Linked DNA regions of Homo sapiens: region 1 is linked to region 2. Evidence: fine-mapped expression QTL. A gene starts in region 2. The other region holds a variant in brackets. All regions are shown on one strand. Distances are between the middles of the regions.

Region 1 (2,500 bases), 27 kb before region 2:
GAGTGCAATGGCACGATCTTGGCTCACCGCAACCTCTGCCTCGCGGGTTCAAGCAATTCTCCTGCCTCTGCCTCCCAAGTAGCTGGGATTACAGGCGCGTGCCACCACACTCGGCTAATTTTGTATTTTTAGTAGAGACGGGGTTTCTCTGTGTTGGTCAGGCTGGTCTCGAACTCCCAACCTCAGGTGATTCGCCAGCCTCGGCCTCCCAAAGTGCTGGGATTACAGGTGTGAGCCATCGTGCCCGGCTGACACCACATTTTAAACATGCTCTCCCAGTGACACTGATATGGGCAGAATACGAGCATACTCTGAGAAAGTGTTTCAAACTGGGGGTGGGAGGGTTCTTCTAAGCAATAAAGTTTTACAACCAGCCAGGCACAGTGGCTCACGTCTATAATCCTAGCACTTTGGGAGGTCAAAAAGGGAAGATTGGGCAACACAGCAAGACCTCGTCTCTACTTAAAAAAAAAAAAGAGTAGCAAGGCATGGTGGCAGGTGCCTGTAGTCCCAGCTAATCAGGAGGCTGAAGCCGGAGGACTGCCTGAACGCAAGAGTTTGAGGCTGCATGAGCTACGATTGCACCACTGCTCTCCAGCCTGGGCCACAGCACAAGACTCTGTCTCAAAAAAGTAAATTAATTAAGACTGGTCAATGGGGTGTCTACTAAAAATACAAAAATTAGCTGGGCACGGTGGCACACGTCTGTAATCCCAGGACTCGGGAGGATGAGGCAGGAGAATCGCTTGAACTCGGGAGGTGGAAGCTGGAGTAAGCCGAGATTGCACCCCTGCACTCCATCCTAGGCAACAGAGCGAGACCCTGTTTCAATAAGTAAACAAACAAATAAATAAATAAATAAAATTTGACAACCTATAATAAGGTAACTAAAGACAGGGTCTATTATACACATTGTATCTAGTTATCTAGCATTAGCTTCAGCATCTGCTTGAAAGCTAAAAGAAAATTACCAGAAATGAGATCACAGAGTGTACTATGATCTCATCACAGGACTCTCCTCCAGCTCCAGAGGAATGTACGAAACAACTGTTCCACAGCAGGCCAGACAGAAAAATGAAGAAAACACTAGGCACTGTGGTTTAATAGGCCAAGCAGAATAAATGCTACCACAAAACTCCATAGCAAGGCATGCGGCACAGGTCCTGCAGTGAGTGACCTGAGTGACTGCAACAGGCACTCTTGGCCACTGACCCACGTCCACCTGCCAAAAGCAGCAGTAAATAGAAGTACAGTGAGTTGAGGCCGGGCGCGGTGGCTCACGCCTGTAATCCCAGCACTTTGGGAGGCCGAGGCGGGTGGATCACGAGGTCAAGAGATCGAGATCATCCTCACCAACATAGTGAAACCCCGTCTCTACTAAAAATACAAAAAAATAGCCAGGCGTGGTGGCGGGTGCCTGTAGTCCCAGCTACTCGGGAGGCTGAGGCAGGAGAATGGCGTGAACCCAGGAGGCGGAG[C/T]TTGCAGTGAGCCGAGATCTCGCCACTGCACTCCAGCCTGGGCAACAGAGCGAGACTCTGTCTCTCAAAAAAAAAAAAAAAAGACGTACAGTGAGTTAAATACCCTCTGGGGCCCTATTTGCACAGTCTGTAAAATTGGTTCGGAAAGATGCCAATGGAGATAGGATTCCTAAAGCATCTTTCAGATATGACCTGTTGGAGGGCCCTAAGGAATTCACGGCGGCCTTGACCACCCCAAGAGAGGTGTTCATAGGCCAAAGTCAGGAATAAGCTGCAGGGCAAGTTGCACGCATTTATTGTTTCAGATCACAGGCTCCGAGGGAACTGAGTTTATGATCCACGCTTTCTTCATCGCTTTGGAGAGTACACGCCTACCCCACCCCAGTATATCCGTTAGGTCCTAGTAAACATTTGTGGCACTGGTGATATGTTTCGAATCTTTTTTTTTCCCCAGTAATATAAACCCGAGAGCGTGGACCAAGCCATTCGATTACATGTTGTGTTTGAGCAACACCATCCACGCCGTGAGCTTACTGGACCCTGGGCCGTGCCCAGCGACCGTGGACACTGAACTAAGCCAGAGCTGGTGCTCACGTGAAGACAAGGGCAGAGGAGGATTCGGAGCTCTACAGGGTAGAGCCAGAAGGGTAGTACAGGCTTAACTGCTGGCCCGGTGCTTCCAGCTCAGCCGAGGGGCCGCGGGGCCGCAGGCTGCATTCCCCGAGGCCAGGCCGCATCTTTTCCCCCGCCCCGACGACCCCGCGCACTGCAGGAAGGGGGCGGCGACGTTGACCGCCGCAAGCAGCCAAAGGAGGGCGGCGGCTGAGAGCGGCCAAGACCAAGAAAGACGCACAGCTGTGGCTTTACTAAACCGCCGGGCGGGAGCCCGGAGCCCCACAGGCAAGGCCCCCAGCGTCGCTCGGATCTACCACGGGGAGACCGGAGGCGTCTGAGGCCGCCTCCAGAGGAACAAAGGTTCCTCACGAGGCCGGGGGTGGCAGAGTGTCAAGAGACACACAGGA
Region 2 (3,017 bases):
AAGAGGTGTTTTCTTCTGTAAAGCAGAATTCAGTATGTTACACGAATCCAGCCTTTTAGTGGTTGAAAACAAAGCAAAACAGCCGGGCGCGGTGGCTCACACCTGTAATCCCAGCACTTTGGGAGGCCGAGGTGGGCGGATTGGGCGGATCACGAGGTCAGGAGTTCGAGACCAGCCTGACCTACATAGTGAAACTCTTTCTCTACTAAAAATACAAAAAATTAGCCGGCCGTGGTGGCGGGCGCCTGTAGTCCCAGCTACTCGGGAGGCTGAGGCAGGAGAATGGCGTGAACCCGGGAGGCAGAGCTTGCAGTGAGCCGAGATCACGCCACTGCACTCCAGCTGGGCAACAGAGTGAGACTCTGTCTCAAAAAGCAAAAAAGAAAACGAAGCAAAACAAAAAGCAATACCAGCCGGGCGTGGTGGTGCACGCCTGTAATCCCAGCTATCCGGGAGGTTGAGGCAGGAGGATCGCTTGGGCCCTGGAAGTCGAGGCTTCAGTGAGCCATGATCGCGCCACTGCACTCCAGCCCTGGGCGACAGAGCGAGACCTTGTCTCCAAAAACAAACAAAACCACGCCCACACACTAACAACAACAACAAAACCAAAAAAAAACCCAAACAATACCAAGTGTGTACCATGACGAGAAAAGGAATAGGTTGTTTGTAAAATAAATGTTAAAGATAAGTAACTATTACCCATTTCTCCAACCAGTATACTTGACTTTGAGTGTTTGTTCCAGAGTTGAGGGGATGGAGAGGGATGTGTATGTGTGTAGATGCCCTCCATGCGCTGTGTTGAAAACGCGCGGGTGACTGCAGGAAACCACAGAGCACAGCTCGGGCCTCTACTGATCGGGAAACGTCGGAAGACAGAAAAATGGGCAATCATAAAACCCACGGCAACCATGAAGACACGCACTCTCCCCCTAGCAATCCCACCCCGGAATTGAGGACACAGGGTCCCCGCGCTCAGCCCTTGGTGCCAGCACTTCTTGGACACCTCAACCCCCTCAGCTAAACCTGAGATCCAAGCGCTCCGGATTCCAAACGTTTCCTCGAGCAGGTCCTCTCTAGCCGGCCGCTTATCTATGGTTTCTGCTATAGGGCGCTCTAGCCTGCGCCAAGGGGTAGTGAGACCGCGCGGCAACAGCTTGCGGCTGCGGGGAGCTCCCGTGGGCGCTCCGCTGGCTGTGCAGGCGGCCATGGATTCCTTGCGGAAAATGCTGATCTCAGTCGCAATGCTGGGCGCAGGGGCTGGCGTGGGCTACGCGCTCCTCGTTATCGTGACCCCGGGAGAGCGGCGGAAGCAGGAAATGCTAAAGGTAGAAGCAACTGGTAGTCCCGAGGAAGGGTGGGCGGGTGGAGAGCCCCGGACTGGAGCTCCTGCGAACTCCCCTTCCTGCCCTCAGGAGATGCCACTGCAGGACCCAAGGAGCAGGGAGGAGGCGGCCAGGACCCAGCAGCTATTGCTGGCCACTCTGCAGGAGGCAGCGACCACGCAGGAGAACGTGGCCTGGAGGAAGAACTGGATGGTTGGCGGCGAAGGCGGCGCCGGCGGGAGGTCACCGTGAGACCGGACTTGCCTCCGTGGGCGCCGGACCTTGGCTTGGGCGCAGGAATCCGAGGCAGCCTTTCTCCTTCGTGGGCCCAGCGGAGAGTCCGGACCGAGATACCATGCCAGGACTCTCCGGGGTCCTGTGAGCTGCCGTCGGGTGAGCACGTTTCCCCCAAACCCTGGACTGACTGCTTTAAGGTCCGCAAGGCGGGCCAGGGCCGAGACGCGAGTCGGATGTGGTGAACTGAAAGAACCAATAAAATCATGTTCCTCCACCCAGAATGAGCCCTGCAGTCGACACCTACCAATGCTTAGAGACGCGTGGTCGGTGCTGGGGGCGCGGCCTGGAGCTGCTGCCTGTCCCACCCCACCAGAAGAGGCTGATCCCGATAGGTATCTGACCACATTTTTTTTTTTTTTTTTTTTTTGAGACGGAGTCAATGTCACCCAGGCTGGAGTGCAGTGGCACGATCTCGGCTCACTGCAACCTCCGCCCCTGGGTTCCAGCAATTCTCCTGCCTCAGCTTCCCGAGTAGCCGGGATCACAAGTGCGCGCCACCAAGCCCAGCTAACTTTTGTGTTTTTAGTTGAGACAGGGTTCACCATGTTGGCTAGACTGGTCTCGAACTCCAGACCCAGGTGATCCGCCCGCCTCGGCCTCCCAAAGGGCTGGGATTACAGGCGTGAACCACCTCGCCCTGCCGCGGCCACATTTTTTCTTTTTTTTGAGATGGAGTCTTGCTCTTGTCACCCAGGCAGGAGTGCAGTGGCGCAATCTTGGCTCACTGCAACCTCTGCCTCCTGGGTTCAAGCTGTTCTCCTTACTCAGCCTCCCATGTAGCTGGGATTACAGGCGTCCGCAACCACGCCCGGCTGATATTAGTAGTTTTAGTAGAGGCGGGTTTCACCATGTGGCCAGGCTGATCTCGAACTCCTGACCTCAGGCAGTTCACCCGTCTCAGCCTCCCAAAGTGCTGGGATTAGAGGCGTGAGCCACTGCGCCCGGCCAACCACATTTTCAAAACAGGTCATGTGGTGTCAGGTTGGAGTGTACTTCCAGGGATAACCGTGGGACATTCTTGAAATCTGAACTATCCTGGGAAGTCTTGAAGTAATGGATGCCTATAGTGGACACTCAGGACTCCTGTCCTTGGAGCGAGATTGGAGGGGCATCTAGCACTTAACATATGCCACAATGCTTTCTGTGGCCATTATTTAACCTCTGGTTAAACAAGCTTAGGAGGCTGACTTACTAGTAGTAAAAGGAGTGTGCTTTGAGTCACAGATCCTGGTTGAACTCCAGCATGTTACAAACCTCAGCCCTGTTCTATGAAAGGTCATAACTACGAGGATTATTGTAAAACATTAATTTAGAAATGTAAAGTGGTCCCCAATCTCTGGATCTGGTCAGGATTTATTGGAGCTGCCACTGAGGGGATTAAATAAGTGGGGTCAAAGC

What was found. PIP is the estimated chance that this variant, and not a neighbour inherited with it, causes the effect. A credible set is the group of variants that fine-mapping cannot tell apart.
Region 1: its variant is the best candidate, but not a certain one, in a credible set for the expression of LBHD1 in whole blood (INTERVAL, PIP 0.79).

Annotation. Positions count from the first base shown.
Region 1 is chr11:62,643,994-62,646,493 of GRCh38, forward strand. All of the region lies in intron 1 of GANAB (glucosidase II alpha subunit), which reads right to left. Among named protein-coding and RNA genes, the nearest start is that of GANAB, 1.4 kb to the right of the region's middle. RefSeq lists enhancers at 819-1,626, 1,942-2,101. The variant C/T (reference allele first, on the strand shown) is at 1,479.
Region 2 is chr11:62,670,541-62,673,557 of GRCh38, forward strand. It overlaps LBHD1 (LBH domain containing 1), which reads right to left and starts at 1,727. Exons shown (of 7, transcript NM_024099.5): 1 at 1,024-1,727. It overlaps UQCC3 (ubiquinol-cytochrome c reductase complex assembly factor 3), which reads left to right and starts at 1,133. Exons shown (of 2, transcript NM_001085372.3): 1 at 1,133-1,325; 2 at 1,413-3,017. The coding sequence starts at 1,206. The coding sequence ends at 1,574. RefSeq lists enhancers at 1-558, 559-1,298, 1,299-2,040, 1,407-1,566 and a silencer at 1,807-1,936.